Linked DNA regions of Homo sapiens. The protein of the gene in region 2 interacts with the protein of the main gene of each other region in a biochemical or structural test. Each region holds a gene or a part of one and is shown on either strand. Other genes may lie near its edges.

Evidence for each region.
Region 1: of the proteins of NSMCE2 (region 2) and TSNAX, one has a biochemical effect on the other in vitro, tested with the Homo sapiens proteins (one study listed by BioGRID).

Annotation. Positions count from the first base shown.
Region 1 is NC_000001.11:231,559,669-231,563,168, forward strand, and holds part of TSNAX (translin-associated protein X), read left to right. Parts: intron 1-1,459; coding exon 1,460-1,587; intron 1,588-3,500.
Region 2 is NC_000008.11:125,364,240-125,367,620, forward strand, and holds the end of NSMCE2 (E3 SUMO-protein ligase NSE2), read left to right. Parts: intron 1-2,528; coding exon 2,529-2,646; 3' UTR 2,647-2,881; downstream 2,882-3,381. UniProt on the Homo sapiens protein: E3 SUMO-protein ligase component of the SMC5-SMC6 complex, a complex involved in DNA double-strand break repair by homologous recombination. Is not be required for the stability of the complex.

The DNA of each region.
Region 1 (3,500 bases), on a different chromosome or scaffold from region 2:
TGTAGACATGTAACAAAATTGCACTTGTGCCCTTTACATTTATATAAACATTTTTAAAAGTATTTAAGTTACATTTTGATCTTTACCAAAATTTACTCTTCAATTCAAGGGTTGTTTCTGTCTTGTACAAAATTGTATTGCATAGCTCTCTTTTTTTTTTCTTAAACTACCAAAGCAGAAAGGAGTTATCTAGTCTTAGATCCATTTTGAACTATGAAAAGATAAACGGTATTTTGACACTTACCTACATTAGTTAAAAGTGATTTTGCCTATTAAAACTTTAAGAAAGATCCAAATTATTATTATTATTATTATTATTTTTTTTTTTTTGCGACGAGTCTCGCTCTGCCGCCTAGGCCGCAGTGCAGTGGCATGATCTTGGCTCACTGCAAGCTCTGCTTCCCGGGTTCACGCCATTCTCCTGCCTCAGCCTCCTGTGTAGCTGGGACTACAGGCGCCCGCCACCACGCCCGGCTAAGTTTTTTTATTTTTAGTAGAAATGTGGTTTCACCATGTTAGCCAGGATGGTCTGGATCTCCTGACCTCGTGATCCACCCGCCTGGGCCTCCCAAAGTGCTGGGATTACAGGCGTGAGCCATCGTGAACGGCCCAAATGATTCTTAATTTTATGTCTCATTTGTTTGAATCATTGCTTCGTTACCCAGCAAAATAAAACAAATTAATTTATATAATTTTTATTAAAGCCTATCAAAATTATGGAATAGGCTTTTCTTTTCTCCCCCCCCCCCCTTTTTTTTTTTTTGAGACGAAGTCTCGCTCTTGTCCCCCAGGCTGGAGTGCAATGGTGCGGTCTTGGCTCACTGCAACCTTCGGCTCCTGGGTTCAAGCGATTCTCCTGCCTCAGCCTCCCGAGTAGCTGGGATTACGGGCTCCTGCCACCACACCCGGCTAATATTTTTTGTATTTTTAGTAGAGATGGGGTTTCGCCATGTTGGCCAGGATGGTCTCAAACTCCTGACCTCAGGTGATCCGCCCACCTCAGCCTCCCAAAGTGCTGGGATTACAGGCGTGAGCCACCGTGCCCGGCCAGAATAAGCTTTTCTTAAATCCTAATTACTTAAACTCTTAAAAAAATTTTTTTTCTGGCTGGGCACAGTGGCCCAGAGATTACAGGCGCCCGCCACCATGTCCAGCTAATTTTTGTATTTTTAGTAGAGTTGGGGTTTTACTGTGTTGGCCAGGCTGGTCTCCATCTCCTGACCTGAAGTGATCCACCCGCCTTGGCCTTTTAAAGTGCTGGGATTACAGGCGTGAGCCACCGCGCCTGGTCCCCAGGCCATTCTTTCTATTCTAAGTGTCTAGTCTAGTACTGGCATTGTAGTAGGCATCCATTAAGCTTTTTTTTGAACTAGATGATGATCAATATGAAGTTTTTTTATTATGACATTCTTACTAATTAAGTGCTTATTCTTAGTAATTTTCTTTGTCACGCTTTCAGGACTACAGGAATATGTGGAAGCTGTCTCTTTTCAACACTTCATCAAAACACGATCATTAATTAGTATGGATGAAATTAATAAACAATTGATATTTACGACTGAAGACAATGGGAAAGAAAATAAAACTGTGAGAATTTAAAATTTATTTCACATTTGTTATATAATTTATGTAACAGTATGACGATTCTAGTAGATTTACTGGCTTATGCTAAGATTGAGATGGGAATGTTCTTTCTAAAGTATGGTTTTGTAGAGTCTCAACTAGGAAATGGTCTTTTTAAATATTTCAGTTAGTGGATAGAACAAGAACAACTCTGGGCATATTGGGAAAGTAATGCTCTTTACCTAAAGCATTATGGAGTGCTTACTGTAAGTCCTCTTTTGGTTTTACTCTCTATTTTTCACTTGCCCTTTGTAAGCACTGTCTTATTTAATCCTTTTATTAACCATATGTGGTAAGCATTATTACTCTCATTTTACAGAGAAAGAAACAGACTTTTAGAGAGGTTAAGTAACTTGCCAGAAGCCACAACTAAAAAGTGTGGCAGAGCTAAGATTTGAAGTTAGGTATTTTGAATCCAAGCCTGTGCCCTTGTCCACTCTGCCAGCGCTTCTCACAGTGTGCTACAGGGATCCCTTGCATCAGGTACCTACCTCAAAGGGTTGTTTTAAAGGATTTGACTTAAAGGTTATTAATTAGGCAATATACAGCAGCACCTGACACGTAATATACATTATATACAGCACCTGACACGGAAGTGCTCAGTAGTTTGCCATTATAAAGTAGTTTTTATATAGTGAGAGCTGTTAATCATTTACTCAATTCATAATGCTTATATCTGAAATTTATGTAGCTTTTCTGAATTAAGAAAAACTTTGCAGTTTGACTTTTAAACAAATACTATTTTTTTCCTTCTGGGTTTCAAGATATAACAGGCAGTAAGGTAAGCTGTATTGACTATTTGATACTTTCTGAGATACCAGTACACTTAAAATTAAATATTTTAAAATAATTTATATTATTTAAATAATTGTTTAAATATTAAATTATTAAATTATTAATTTAATTTACTAAATATTAAATATTTAATTATTTTAAAAATTTTCTTTATTTTTTCTTTTAAAAATTATTTTTAAAAACACCATATATTAAGGATAGGTAGGCAGGAGATGGAAGACACTGTAGAAATAATATTTTCTTGAATATCAACTAAAATATTAATACAAATGAGACTAATTTGGCATGACAGGTATAACTTACTTTAAGGAAGCCATGTATTAACTTTAAGTTATATGAAGTGTATTAAGGAGGAAATTTATTTTGAGAAGTAAAATTTCTTCATATTTTTTATTCATATAGTGTAGACTGAATTACACAAAGAAGTAAAGTAGGTCTATTTGACCCTGCTTCTCACGTGATATTAGGGAAGTTACCACACTTTCCTTTAAAGTTCTCTGTGTATCAAAATGAAAATATTGGGGAAAAGGCCAGAAAATTGAGAGTCAAAGTACTGTTTTCAGGACTTAGGTACCAGATTATTTTAAGATTATGGGGCTATAATATTCATATACATGTTTCAAATTGTATAAGACTATGTTCATAAATAAGTTTTAGTGCTAAAGATGCTTGGTGCTGAAATTTCTGGGAATTTGATTGGGAAAGGTATTTTGCTCTGACTTGCCTGTTGAGAATATTGTCAAAACTATTTAATTTTTATTTTAAAAAGTTTTGTGAAAAATTTCAAACATGCAGAAAAATAGAATGGAAACATTAGTGCCACTAACTAGCTATCATATTCCCATAGCTCAACGTCATATTACCTGTGATGTTTCTCGGACCTCATTTCTCATGCTAAATGATGAGGACGTTGCACCAAATGGTCTCTGCAGAGTCCAAACAGTGCTAGGATTCAAGTATTAGATACATAGCAAAGAGTGATCTTAATAAAGCTGTCTCCCTTGTCTCAGCTTATATTTATGTAACTTCCTTTAAACTTTACTCAAAAGAATTATCTCATTAGTTCCTCAAATGCACAATTC
Region 2 (3,381 bases):
GGCCATATTTTAATATTTTAAAAATAAATACTGTTATTAAGCATATTATATTTCATTGATTAATACCCCTCTAATGTAAAAACTCCTTGATCCACAGATCAGGGCCAAGAAATACTTTCTTTCATGTTGGACTGTTGGGCTTCCTACCACTAGACAAATTGGAGCTCCCATGACCAACTTTCTTTCCTTCTGGTTTGCATCTTTACTGTGGTTTGCACATTTGTTGTTTTTGGTCTTAATATCCTGTGCTTTATGGAGAGCTGTCTCAGATCACTGGGCCAGAGCTCTGTGTGGGCAGGAACCATGTATTTGTATTTCACAGTTGCATGCTTAGAACCTAGCATAGGGCTGATCCCTAGAAGAGTCAATTAATGCATGAATGGGTGCATGCCTGTGTGGGATATATGCAAGATAGAAATAGATCCAGAACTTTAAAACTTCTTGGAAGAATGATGATGAGGGAACACATGATAGTCACAGGGGATCTGGAAGGGAATTAACATTATTGAGCACAGAGGATCTGGGAGGGAATTAACAGTATTGACTGTCACCTTGGGAAATAAGGGTTCTCTCCCCATTTTAACTCAGAGGCAAGGGAGGCTCAAGAGGGTTATTGTGAATTGCCTGTGGTCTCATAACTAGCAAGTAGGTGGTAGAGAGAAAATTCAGACCTAGGTTAGCTTGACTCCAAACATTGGGCCTCTAATCTACCAAAATTTGGTTCACTTTGAGAACCAGATTCTTTGAGAAGAAATAGGTGGTTTCATCCAGCCCACTGCCCTCAGAGAAGACCACATCGAAGCAGAGCCGTGGCTTGTTTCCACCCCTTTGTGGGTGACTCACTGATGTCTTTAGCTGCAGCCTTTCCACCGAGTCCCAGTGGCCCACTCAGTCTCTCTTCTAGGAGGGCTACTGGGCATCCATTCCAGAGGAAACAGATACCAACCAGGACTGTGGTTCTGTGCTGCAGCCTGTTTTGCCCCATCGTTTCCCACTGTGATGAAGGGCACTACCAGTCACTGATCTACCCAGATGAAGCTCGCTTCTTCCCTTTCGCTTATGCTCCACAGCCACTCCATCGGCAAGTCCTATAGGTTCTATGGTCAAGCATGTCCTGAAGCTGATCGCCATACCACCCTCAGCCGAGCTGCCCTCACCTCTCTCCTGCACCCTGCAGGATCCCCCATGCTATTTTCCCTGCCCTTCTCTTACCTCCCTGTTTTGTATTCTCCATAAGCAGCCAGAGTAACATTTTCCAGATGTAAACCAAACACACTCCTCACCCATCTCAAAACCTTCCAGTGTTTTGTCTTCATATTTAAAATAAAATCCAAGTCCAGGCACGGTGGCTCATGCCTGTAATCCCAGCACTTTGGGAGGCCGAGGCAGGTGGATCACTTGAGGTCAGGAGTTCGAGACCAGCCTGGCCAACATGGTGAAACCCCATCTCTACTAAAAATACACAAAATTAGCCAGGCATGGTGGCAGGCGCCTGTAATCCCAGCTACTCAGGAGGCTGATGCAGGAGAATTGCTTGAACCCAGGAGGCGGAAGTTGCAGTGAGCTGAGATCACGCCACTGCACCCCAGCCTGGGTGAAAGAGTGAGACTCCATCTCAAAATAAATAAATTAATTAAATTAAATAAACTCCAAAGCCCCATTGGCGCACTGACCTCACTTCCAACTGCTCTCCCTCTTGCCTGGGTCGCTGCAGCCACATAGAGCTTGCTGTCACTCCAGGGCACCAAGCTGGAACGTCCTCAGCACTGCACTTGCTACTGCCTCAGCCCAGACCACATGCAGACTTGTTCCCACGCTTCATTCTGGGTCCTGCCCTAGATAAGATGTGTTCGGTGAGGCATGCCCTGAGTCCAGCCAGTGAAGCTGTGGCCCCAGCACTCTCTCTCCCTGACCCTGCTTTGTTGCCCTCATAGCCCATAAGGTGACCTGAACTTGCAGCAAGCATTTATTTGGTTCCCTAGTGGTTGCCTGTCTTCCTCATTAGAAAGATAGCTCATAGGCTGGGCGCGGTGGCTCACGCCGGTAATCCCAGCACTTTGGGAGGCCGAGGCGGGCGGATCACGAGGTCAGGAGATCGAGACCATCCTGGCTAACACGGTGAAACCCTGACTCTATTAAAAATACCAAAAATTAGCCGGGCGTGGTGGTGGGTGCCTGTAGTCCCAGCTACTCGGGAGGCTGAGGCAGGAGAATGGTGTGAACCCGGGAGGCGGAGCTTGCAGTGAGCCAGGATCGTGCCACTGCACTCCAGACTCCGTCTCAGAAAAAAAAAAGAAAGTTAGCTCATGATAAGGCAGGCACTACTCACATATCGCTTGTGTCCCCAGCACCCAGACAGGGCCTGGCTCAGGTAGGGACTCAGTGAATAAATGAATGAGCACAGCTTGGTCCTGATTTTGACACTTTTCCTTTTTCAGTAAAATGCCTTACTTAAACACTTGAGTATAAAAGAAGTTTCTGCTTAAGGCAGTAAAGGGGACTGACTTGATGTTCTTTCTTTCTCACAGTTGCCCTCAAATTGGCTGTAGCCACACGGATATAAGAAAGTCAGATCTTATCCAGGATGAAGCACTTAGAAGGGCAATTGAGAACCATAACAAGAAAAGACATCGTCATTCCGAGTAGGAAAAGCCACCTGCCTGCAGGGACACCAGCAGCCTACCTCCTACCCCAGCTGTCTGTTGAGAGCAGTGCTGACCCCAGCAGTTAGGGACTGGCTGCATAGCATACTTGTTGGGGGTAAAACTTGTTGCTTTTATGTGTGCTTGAAAACATTTTTCAAAGTTACACAACAGAAATGCAATCATATTGTTTATTTTTAAGTGTTCTATAATGTTAAATAAAACTTTGATCATCTGCAGTGTCCTCCCTGCATGCCTCCTGATGTATGGATTGTTCCAGAGGTGCAGGCTTTTCCATTTCAAGGACATCAGACTGATTTTTATAATAGTTTTGACTAAAGAATGTCTTTCAGCCAGGTGCAGTGGCTCATGCCTGTAATCCCAGCACTTTGGGAAGCCGACGTGGGCAGATCACTTGAGGTCAGGAGTTCAAGACCAGCCGGGGCAACATGGTGAAACTCCGTCTCTACCAAAAATCCAGAAATTATCCAGGTGTGGTGGTGCGCACCTGTAATCCTAGCTACTCGGGAGGCTGAGGCAGGAGAATCACTTGAACCCAGGAGGCAGAGGTTGCAGTGAGCCGAGATCGCACCACTGCACTCCAGCCTGGGCGACAGAGCAAGCCTCTAAAAAAAAAAAAAAAAAAAAAAAAAAAAAAAAAAAAAAGAATGTCTTTCAAGTGATATTTGAAATTGAAACATATAAAAACACCCCTATTGGGAGGCATTTTCTATGAGTA